Linked DNA regions of Homo sapiens: region 1 is linked to region 2. The links come from fine-mapping of genetic effects on gene expression. A gene starts in region 2. The other region holds a variant in brackets. All regions are shown on one strand. Distances are from middle to middle.

Evidence for each region. PIP is the estimated chance that this variant, and not a neighbour inherited with it, causes the effect. A credible set is the group of variants that fine-mapping cannot tell apart.
Region 1: its variant is the best candidate, but not a certain one, in a credible set for the expression of PCNX2 in whole blood (TOPMed, PIP 0.64).

What each region holds. Positions count from the first base shown.
Region 1 is chr1:233,056,630-233,062,009 of GRCh38, forward strand. It overlaps PCNX2 (pecanex 2), which reads right to left. Exons shown (of 34, transcript NM_014801.4): 24 at 603-661. Among named protein-coding and RNA genes, the nearest start is that of NTPCR, 110 kb to the left of the region's middle. The variant CTT/C (reference allele first, on the strand shown) is at 2,934.
Region 2 is chr1:233,292,582-233,297,961 of GRCh38, forward strand. It overlaps PCNX2 (pecanex 2), which reads right to left and starts at 3,144. Exons shown (of 34, transcript NM_014801.4): 1 at 2,745-3,144. The coding sequence starts at 2,897. RefSeq lists an enhancer at 2,530-2,579 and a silencer at 2,860-3,239.

The sequences.
Region 1 (5,380 bases), 240 kb before region 2:
GCACGATACAATTGTTCCTAGACAGATTTTGGGTCACAAAGAAGGGAGTGAGGAGGACAAAAATAGAGAACAGTTAAAATTTGCATTCTAATATGAGGAAAGAAGAAATAGAATGGTTAAAAAAGGAGATTGATTATGGAAAGAAAAAAGTAAAATAATTTTCTAGCAGGTACATCCTTTCATAGCTTAATGTTGACCAAAGTTTCTGAAACCTTCTAGATCCTGGATCATGGAATGCTTTACCTTTAAGGATATTATCATGCTGATGTTTTTCCAAAGAATTTTTTTTTCCTAAAAGACGAATCTCAAGGTTTATAGTCTGTGTTTGAGGTTTACTGCACACGAACTAAAATGTCTTGATTAACAGGGGTATGCAATACTGAGCAAGGTCCTAATCAATTCTAAATAGCGGAGCAATGCATTGTCAAACCAAATCAGGTTGCTTGATCACTCTACCTGCACAGTTTTATTCCACATTCAGCAGATTAACTAAGATGTGCATTGTCTCCACAATGAGTACAGAGTGAGTATTTAATTCTTCCTTTTGAGAATCCATCCATACAACAATAAATAGTTGAAAAAGAGAGAAGAGATCTTCTTACCTGGATCTCTTTCAATTTGGACTGCCAGTCTTGTGTTGGAATTATCCACTCGCCTTGTACTAGAAGAGGCCACAAAAGGGTAAAAGGTCATGATTAGATCCCCCCAAGCAGAAGAGTTGGTTTATAGAACCAGCTGCATGAGTGGAAAATGCAAAGGTGACAGATCTCACAGGTTAAGACGATTGCTGTAGTTTTACCACACTGCAGGAAGAGAGGAGTCTCATGATAAGAGATAGAGGGAGCAGTACAAGAAACACATGGAAGGGAGAGATGAGTAGCTCTCTGATTTGGAGAGAACGGTCTTGTGTCTTAATCAATTTGGAGCACCAGATCTGCAAAATCAAAGCAAGTATTTAGGCTGAGCACGGTGGCTCATGCCTGTAATCCCAACACTTAGGGAGGCTGAGGCAGGCAGATCATTTGAAGTCAGGAGCTTGGTACCAGTCTGGCAAACAGTGTGAAACTCCATCTCTACTAAAAATACAAAAAGATTAGCCATGTGTGGTGGCACACTCCTATAATCTCAGCTACTTGGGAGGCTGAACTTGAATCCAGGAGGCCGAGGTCGCAGTGAGCCGAGATTGCACCACTGCACTCCAACCTGGGTGACAGAGCAAGACTCAAAAAAAAAAAAGCAAGTGTTTAAACTGCCAATGTAATGCTACCCACTTTCAGAACTTGAGAACAGTGTCCACAAAGGTATCTTTCTCTTCAAATTGATTTCAGGAAATGGTGGTGAGTAGTCAACGTCTCCACCACCTGCTTTCAAGAGTGGGGTATACTCTTATAGACCTTTCTTAGGTTGAACCATGAGAATGAAAGCTCTCGGATCATCTGCAGCCATGGTAACAAGTGGCCACTAGAACCAGCTTTGAACCTATTCCATCATGTAAACACCCCTCAGTGCACAGCTTTTGTAAGGCAGCCAGTCCATGACAACCCCTGGCTTCTGAGAGTTAGCCGACTCACTGCAGACTTGAGGGGCAACTGATGAATAACAGGCTTTTCAAGTAACCACCTATACAGATGCCATCAACCCATGTATGCCTCCAAAACCTCACCAGTCCTTGAACTCCACACATCCCCAAAACCCTTTGTAAGTGCAGCGATCTGCTCTCTTGGAGAGGCTATGCCAGCCTACCTTTGTCCTTTTATTTCCAACAATGAGTGGCGGTCTTTAAAGAATGAAATATGAAATTGACATCAGGCCTATGAAATTGACGATAGTCAACTGTTTATTATCACCTACAAAATGGCAATTTCATATGGTTAAATCTGATATATTCGCCATTAAGAAAGGGCTTCCACAAATATATCAGCATCACACATAGGGTTTACTTAAGGATTTGGGCATAATGAAGGTCCCACTGACAATTGTAGAAAGCCTGGTCTTGAACACATCTGGCTCCTGCTTTTTCTTTTTCTTTTCTTTTCTTTTTTTTTTTTTTTTTTTGAGATGGAGTCTCGCTCTGTCACCAGGATGGAGTGCAGCAGTGCAATCTCGGCTCATGGCAACCTCCGCCTCCTGGGTTCAAGCGATTGTCCTGCCTCAGCCTTCCCAGTAGCTGGGATTACAGACATGCGCCACATGCCCAGCTAATTTTTGTATTCTTAGTAGAGACGGGGTTTTACCATGTTGACCAGGATGGTCTCGCTCTCTCGACCTCATGATCCACCTGCCTTGGCCTCCCAAAGTGCTGGGATTACAGGTGTGAGTCACAGCGCCTGGCCAGCTCCTGCCTTTTCTATCACTCCACCCTTTGCTTTCTTTGCTCCAAGCCTGTTGGTTTTCCTTTTCCACCCCTTCAGCATGCCCAGACCTCTTAGTCCTGTCATTCCTTCCTCTCCAGTATCCTTTGCAAATGTTCCCTCTACTTAGGGATCCCTTTCCATTCCCACTCATTTTTCCTCATTGACTCCTCTCATCCTTCAAGTCTCAGCTCAAGTATCACCTTCTCAGGGAAGCTGCCTTGACTCCTGTGCTGCTTGAGATTCCTTTGTCATGTTCTCTTTCACATGTTGTACCTGTACCTCTCTTTTGGAGCACCTGTCAAGGCTAACATCAATCATAACAATGGCAGCTAACATTTATGTAGCACTTGCTTGTGTCATGTGCCTGTTCTAAGTACTTTATATGTATTGGCTTATTATTGCCTCAAAACTACCCTCTGAGGTAGGTACTCATTATACCCATTCTCACGGCGGATGAGGCAGAGGCACAGAGAAATTAAATAGAGTGCTCAAGGTCACAGATCTAACAGGTGGCACAGCCAGAATATGACCTAGGGAGGCTGGCTTAGGAGCCTTTACTTTACACCACATCATACATCT[CTT/C]TGTGTAATTATCTGATGATATCTGACTCTTACATCAGTCCCTAAGTACCATGAGAGTAAGTTTGTTGCTCACAACTGGCACATAGTAGTCACTCAATAAATATTTGCAGAATAAATTATTGAATGGTCAAAGATAAGGCTACTTCTGAAGTTCTTGTCCTTATAATATTTGCTAAGAAGAAACAAGACTAGCTGCCAGTCAATGCTGCATATGTGGCTTATGTTTAAACATGATCATTGACATATTCTGTATAATTTAATAAATGAAAAGCACTTGTCAGAAATGGTGCTTAAGAAGAAACCTAAGAATGCAGCCTTCTTTTGTGAACTTGTCTTTTGGGAATAAAAACAGATAAAAAGATATTTGGTTGGAACTATAATTTGAATAAATGAAAAGGCTTGTCTTCAGAAAAAAAAAGTATTCTTTCTTTTCATGTATGTCTTAGACATTTGGGAACCATCTAGGCAAGATCCTGTTGAGTTCTGTGATGCTACGGATGGATTGGAGAGAAGAAATACTGTGTTACATTTCAGAAAGGCTGTGAACCCAAGTATGCTGTTCTATTACAGCTTTAGTTTTCCTTACAAATACTCTCATAGCAGCTTTGAAAAATGAAAGATCTCAGGGTAGCAGAAAATCCAGCAACCAACAAAATTCTTTTTAATGAAGGCTGAAGTCCCACGTCTGCATAGTTAGTCCCTAAATGGAATTTTAATTTCACCTTAAGACCTACCACAAATGGAATTTTCAAGCAGCAGAATAAACAACTTTTAAAGGAGGATTAAGACAAAAGAAAATCATTTACTAAACTCCTTAGGGAACTAAAACACCTTCTAAAACTATGTTCACTGGAAAGCTATCTTTTCAGAAGCCTATAGAACACAGTCTAAATTCTGATGAGCAATAACTAAGTTAAGCTGCCTGTGTACCCCCAGGACCTCTGGCTCTCCACACATTCTCTAAGAGGGTGGACTGTCAGCCACACTGGGTAATTTGAGTTTTCTCCAGTGCTTTCCTCCTGTAAATTTGGTGCTTACCCCTCAAAGGTGCTAATTAGCTCAGTAATTGGATTTCTGCCTTAACTGTCCAATCAAATGAACATCAGCTCTGTAGCTCAAAGAGGAAACAGGGCTTATAGCTCACTCCCCAATCTCAGTGGGAACATGCAATCCTGGTACACATTAGGCATGCGTCTGCATGCATGGTCTTCCTAGCACTTGCCTGACAAAGTCACTGTGCATTGCTGGCTAATGCTGTCCTGAGCACTACAGAACAAGAGTCGTATAACAGGACTCTCCAGAGAAGCGGACTTACTGAGAAGCACCCCTCTTTTATGTTAATACAAAATGCAGAGAGCAGAGCTGGCTTCTTCCCTTCAAACTTGGCCTTTCCACCCCATGGCCAGTCTCTCTAAGTCAAGCACCTTCTCTCTCAGTTTCATCTGAACAACTTAAATAATTTAAAAGTAATTTTCTATATTGATAATGCTTCAAATTCCCCTTTGTCAGTACACACAGTCTATGGTAAAAGTTGTCTTATTTTTTGGTGAGGAAATACTGCTGGCCGGAGTGAGAAGTTTGGTGGGGGTCTGTTCATATAGCAAATCCAAGACAGAGTTAAAAATAGACTGTAATTCTATTCATAGGCAGACCAACCTTAAAGAAATCTGGACAATGAAAAGGCAGCCAGAGTTTAAATACAGGGGTACTGTCTCCTTTAAAATTGATTATATGCACAAGGTACAGCTAGGTTTGTTTTTCTGCCCTTAATTGCTGCTGCTACTAACAATCGTATTAGCTCTTGCAAAGTCAATGGCACTCTGCTGTCACCACGCAGCTCAGAATGATTTGGCACGAGACATTTCCTGAGGACATACTGCTGTACACCCATCAGGGTGAGCACTGCCTCGGATCAGCGCCTTCAGGTGACCTCCAGCCTTACTGGGCCTGGGTTTTGACTTTTCATACATTTGCCCTCCAAGACCACAAACAGCTCAGTTTGGCTGTTTCTTTTTTCAGGTTTGGCAGATGGTCTTGAATAAAAATGGTTATGAGTGCTGGGTGCTTTCCTTCTACTGGATTTTGATCTGAATTTTCAGTACTTTGAAGGTTTTGAGCAACCAACAACTTTGAGTTTAAAGAAAGTTTTGTTGGTTTTTTTCTTTATATTTATTTTTGTTGTTATTGTTTTGTATTTGTTTTTGTTTTTTTTGAGACAGAGTCTTACTCTGTCGCCCAGGCTGGAGTGCAGTGGTGCGATCTTGGCTCACTGCAACCTCCGCCTCCTGGGTTCAAGCGATTCCCCTGCCTCAGCCTCCCGAGTAGCTGGGATCACAGGCATGCACCACTACGCCCAGCTAATTTTTGTATTTTTAGTAGAGATGGGGTTTCACCATGTTGGCCAGGCTGGTCTCAAACTCCTGACCTCAGGTGATCCACCTGCCT
Region 2 (5,380 bases):
AAGCCCCTGCTGTCAGTAAGCAGTCAGGTATCTTCTTGGAACAAATGATTGTAAATGAACAAATTGAAAAAGACATTAACAATCACAGGCAACACTGAAGTGCAGAGGAATATATTTAAGCACGAAGATCTGAAGAACAAAGCCTCCATTTGGGGAAGAGGGCCTTTTATTTCAAGGGCACTTTCAGAAACCAGAAGACCAAAGCAAGAAAAAAATAACCTGTCATGTTTTTAATAACGCAGGCTATATATTAAAAAGTAGCATAACAGTAACTGTACCCACATACAATTATTCTATAATAGTTAAAGGCATGCTGGCATAGAGATATAACAATTTGGGCATATCTGTTTTTTTTTAAAGTCTGATATAAAAGCAAAATTATTTAAGGTCTCAGACTTTACTTTCTAAAATTTTGAGATTTAGCTGAAAATTACATTTAAATATCATCAAAAAGCAAATTAATGAAGGACAATTTCCTACTCACAAACACAAGATCTAAATCAAGCTACTCAATAAAGCATAGTTAGGTAGAAATTAAGGGTTCTGACCATACGTAGACATCAAATCTTAAGTAGAGTTTTATAAAAATGAGCCCATATGCATAGGAAAAAACATCTGCAGGAACACAACATTAAATGCGAATGTGGTGGTTTCTGAGGAGTGGAATTATAGGTGGAAAATATATTGCTTTTATTCTTAGGAAATATTCAAAAAGTATAGTGAGGTAGACTATTTAATGCTAGTTGGAAAAGAAAGAGACACACAAGTTAATTATATATGAGATCAGTGTTACCAAATGCAGAGCACTCTGCTATGTACAAGGAAAAACCAAGATGAATAAACAACATAAAAATCCATGCCCTCAAAAAAGCTTATGATCTAGACATAGAAGTGAAATACATGTTCCAACAACTAAGTACCAGACAGAATTCGAAAAGTACTATTAATGCTAATAGTCTAACTACAGAATGCTGTAAAACTAATAGTAAATACAGAATGGTATAAGGGCAAGGGAGAAGAGAAATTAATTCTAGCTAAATCAGAAAACATAAGGATGGAGAGATTTTAGAAGATGGGGAAGGATTAAAAAGGGCTATCTCTTACTGAGCACTCTCTGTGTGACAGGTACTAAGAAGTACTTTCATCTATTAATTCACTCAGTTCTCATATTCACCCTATAAGGGAGGTACTGTAATTATCCCTGCTTTACAAACAAGGAAGGTGAAGCTTGCTCAAGCTCATATTAGGTCTAGTGAGCAGCAGAACCAGGATTTCACCCTGGTGAGGGCTGTGCTCCTCATGACTTTGCTATGCTGTCCCTCTAGGAAAAGAGAAACCACTGGGGCCCATAGGCTAAGGAAAAATGGGTTAAGAAAAATGGTGCGGAGAATCAGAAAGAAGAAATAAACTTGCATTTATTGCAGGGTTTCCAAGCAGTTTCTGTATTTAATGCTTTTTATATATAATTTTGGTTAATTTTTCTGTGAAGTGGTGATTGTGATGATCACATCCGTTTTAATGATATGAATGCTAAGTTTTAGAAAAGTTCAGTATCAGACCAAACAGCTAATAAGTAGCAGAACAGAATTGTAAACCCAAGGCCTGAGTCCAATCTCAGGTCAAGACAGACCTGTGGCTTTATATGTACTATCTCATTTAATCCCTAAAACAATCTGTAAATCTGGTACTATTACTTTTTCTCATTTTACAGATAAGAAAATGAAAAATGAGATATGGTAAATAACCTCCCCAAGGTCACAGAACTGGTAACCAGTAGACCCAAAATTTAACCTAGGCATCATGACTTCACACCCAGAGTTCTGACCCTTTGGATACACTGCCGGAAAAAGAGTAAAGAGAAACCCAATCACAAATGTCAAACTCGGAATCCATCAGTCATGCAAACTCATTGACGATTTTTGCTGTAAAAAAAATGATCAAATAATGTGTTAGGAATAAAGTCCTCCAACCGACATACCAAAATTAGATTCTTGGCACGTAAAGTTTAATAAGACATGGAACACCTTACCTGTACAGCTTTTCAAAGCAGGTAAACCATTGTTTTAATTACGTATAATTTACCTAAGAAGGCCATCTATGTAGTTCTTCAGCAAGCACTCACTTACCATAACCCCACTAAAATGTCAAGCCCCATCTAAATGTTGTAATACTTTGTTTAGCATAAAGTACATTAGATTTATCCATTATTATATCTTCCTACAGATTTCTATACATAGTGGTGTAGAAATTACAATGTGAGTAACTGATAACTGAACTGCCTTCTCAAAGCAAAACAAGAAAGAAGGTGAGGGGGGAAAAAGGGGACAATAACTGAAATGAGTCTGCTTTTTACATTTCGTTTTTCCTCTTGGCTACAATCTACAGCATTTCACACCAAACATTATCCCAAGCTACCCAGCTCTAAGGCCTAGAGTTACCCACCTACAAAACAGGCTGCACGCTCCCTGCCACAAGCAGAGTGACTCATCCTAACATCCGGCATCAATTCTTAATGAGTCCCCGAGCCCCCGCAGTCCTGTCTACTTCTTTTCTTTTCCAGTGAATCCTCACAGTCCCCTTTCCCTGCATGTTCTCTGTCCCAAATTTCTGAAGCCCCTCCCTTTCCGTCTCTTAAGAATCTCTACGAACCCGAAAGCCCGTGAGGCTGATGGCACGTCTGTGGTTCCTTTCTCCTTCTTCCCTCCATACCCACAGCTCCCCGGGACCGGACCCTCCCCACTCACCAGGTGCAGGGCCAGGGGCAGCAGCAGGAGGAACAGCCACAGGTAGAGGTGGCAGCTGTTGGTGAACTTGCTCTGCTCCGGGTCGTGGTACCAGCCCCCGGTGAGCGCGGCCCACACGCCCTGCCGGAGCAGCTGCAGCACCTGGGACACCATGCCGGCTGCGCCCCGGGGCTGGTGAGCGCCCCGCTGCACCCTGCGCGCCCCGGCCGGATCTCCAGGCTCCCTCAGGTCTAACACCCGGGCCCGCGGGCCGCGCCCCCGCCGTCGCCGCCGCCGTCGCCCCCGCCGCCTCCTTCCACCCCACGTTTGAAGCTGGAGCTGCTCTTCCGCCCGGACCCGCGAACCGCGGCGCCGGAGCCGGCTGCTGCGGCCGGGCAGGTGAGCGCCATGTCCGAGGGAGGAAGGATTTTCCCATCGTGCTCAGAGGCGGCTGCTCAGAGGTTGCTTCCGAGGCTCCTCCCAACGCCCGCCCAGTCCCTCCTTAGCCTTCGCTGGGGGCCAGAAGGATTTCTGTGAGTGCCTCCAGCCTTTTCTTTCTCTCTTTCTCTTTTTCTCTCTTTCTTTCTCTCTCTCTTTTTCCTTCCTCCTCCCTCCCTCTCTCTCTCTTTCTTCCTTCCTTCCTTCCTTTCTCTCTCTCTCTCTCTTTCTTTCTCGCTCTTTTTTTCTTTCTTTCTTTCTTTTTTTTTTTTGCCTCTCCCCTCTTCCCTTCCCCTTCTCTCTGATCCTCCTGTTAGGGGACGTGCAAGGGTGTTCTCATGCAGAAGGCACAGACCCAGGACACGTTCCTTGTCCTTGTCCTTTTTTGCACCCAAGTATTTACCTCATACAAGGTCCTGTCACACAGCACTCAAAGTAATTTCTTCTCCTGAGCACTTCCTGCACGACTTCATTCTCCTTAATTAAGGGCTGACCCCAGACGTTCTATTAATCTAAGCTCTACCTGGTCCTCTGCCACTGATCTTCTGTCCTCCCTGACTGTTTCTCCTCCACTCCCTGTTGTCCAACTTGGTGGAGAAAGAAGATAACCACCTTCCTGATAAAATTTTAGGAGCTTCAGTTAGCCTTAGTTTTTTATCTCTTTCCTAGAACATAATCCCAGGTATTTAACTGGCTATATAGAACATTAGTCTAAATCTCTCTATGCTGTTTAGACAGGAAGACCCACTGGACAAAAAATTAATAATCTTTAAGCTATTATATATTTTATCATTTACAGTGGATACAGTTTAGATTCTCTTTTGAGAGTGGGTTTTGGAAAGGGAAGAGATAAAAAGGAGCTTGTCTTCCTTTGGGATGAGGAGCAGAAGCCCTGTGTGAGCTAGAGCCTTAGGGAGAGACAAAGATTAGAGGGCTCCATGATTCCCAACACGCCTTCCCTGCATCATCCTTACCTGGTCTGTCCCAACACATCACACTCCTCTGACTTGTGTGCCTGCCTGTGTCCTGGCCATGTTCTGGTCTGCAGCAGCACTTACTTATGGCTGCCCTAGTCAGGCCCAGTAAAGGCACACCAGCCTTCCCAGGCTGAAACGAAGATAAGGACAGGCCCATCATGAGGAGAGGGCCCAGGACATGAAAGGCCACTGAGTTACAGCAAAAGCCTCACTATGGTGTGTCTGCCATCAGCTATAACCACTCTTCCTTCTACTTTACATTCATCAGTAGGAATGAATCATCAAAATGGAATATGGCTGCTTTCTGTACTGGAAGAGTAATTTTCTTAAAGACACAGCTTGTAAACAAATGGGCTTTTTTGTATATCTGCTCAAAATGCTTGTAACCTACCAGGTGCTGTATAAGTGTTTAATGGGTTAATCAACCAATCAACTCCACATTAAAGGAGCGCCGTCACGTGCATGGGTATAGGAGGAAAGGTCATGCAACAGTCTGTTCCCACATGGAGGTTGTGTCCTTGTTCACTTGTCCTGATTCATCAAATATTTACTCAACACCTTCTGGGTGTCAAGCATTTTGCAGAAGACTAAGAAAGCAAATGTAAGTCAAATATAGTCCCTACCATGAAGGAGTTAATAAACCACAAGAGGAGGCAGGAAAATCAAAGACTTGCAATAAAATGTGCTGCCTGTTATCATATTGTAGAAATGGACACATATCCAGATATATGGAAGCACTGGGGCACTGTGGAGTGCAGAAGACATGTGTAAGTCTGTGAGGGAGGGGTGGTGTCAATAAGCACCAGGGAACTGGGTCTTAAAGCTAAATATTAGCTCTCAAGGCATGTAAGTGGGAATAGTTCTCCAGGCACATGTATATGTGGAAAGAGGAGCATGGCAATTTGGGGAAAATGTCAGGATAGTCTAACATGTCTGGAAGGTAGGGCTGGGAATGGGAGAAACGGAACAGTAGGAAACTTAATGAGATAAGCAAAGGTCAGTCTCCTGGGCCATACAAAGTTCTTCAGATCTTATCCTAGGCAATGGACAAGAACTGGAAGGCTGAAGCATGCATGTGACATGATCGATAGTACAGGGGCAAATGCTGAACACCTGAACCAGCAGGAAGGGACAAAATGTTGAGGGATCATATATGATCTTAAGGCTTAGAGATCAATTCAATGTGGAGATAAAGGGATAAGGAATGTAATGATTTTCCATTTTGGGTTGAGATGACTATAC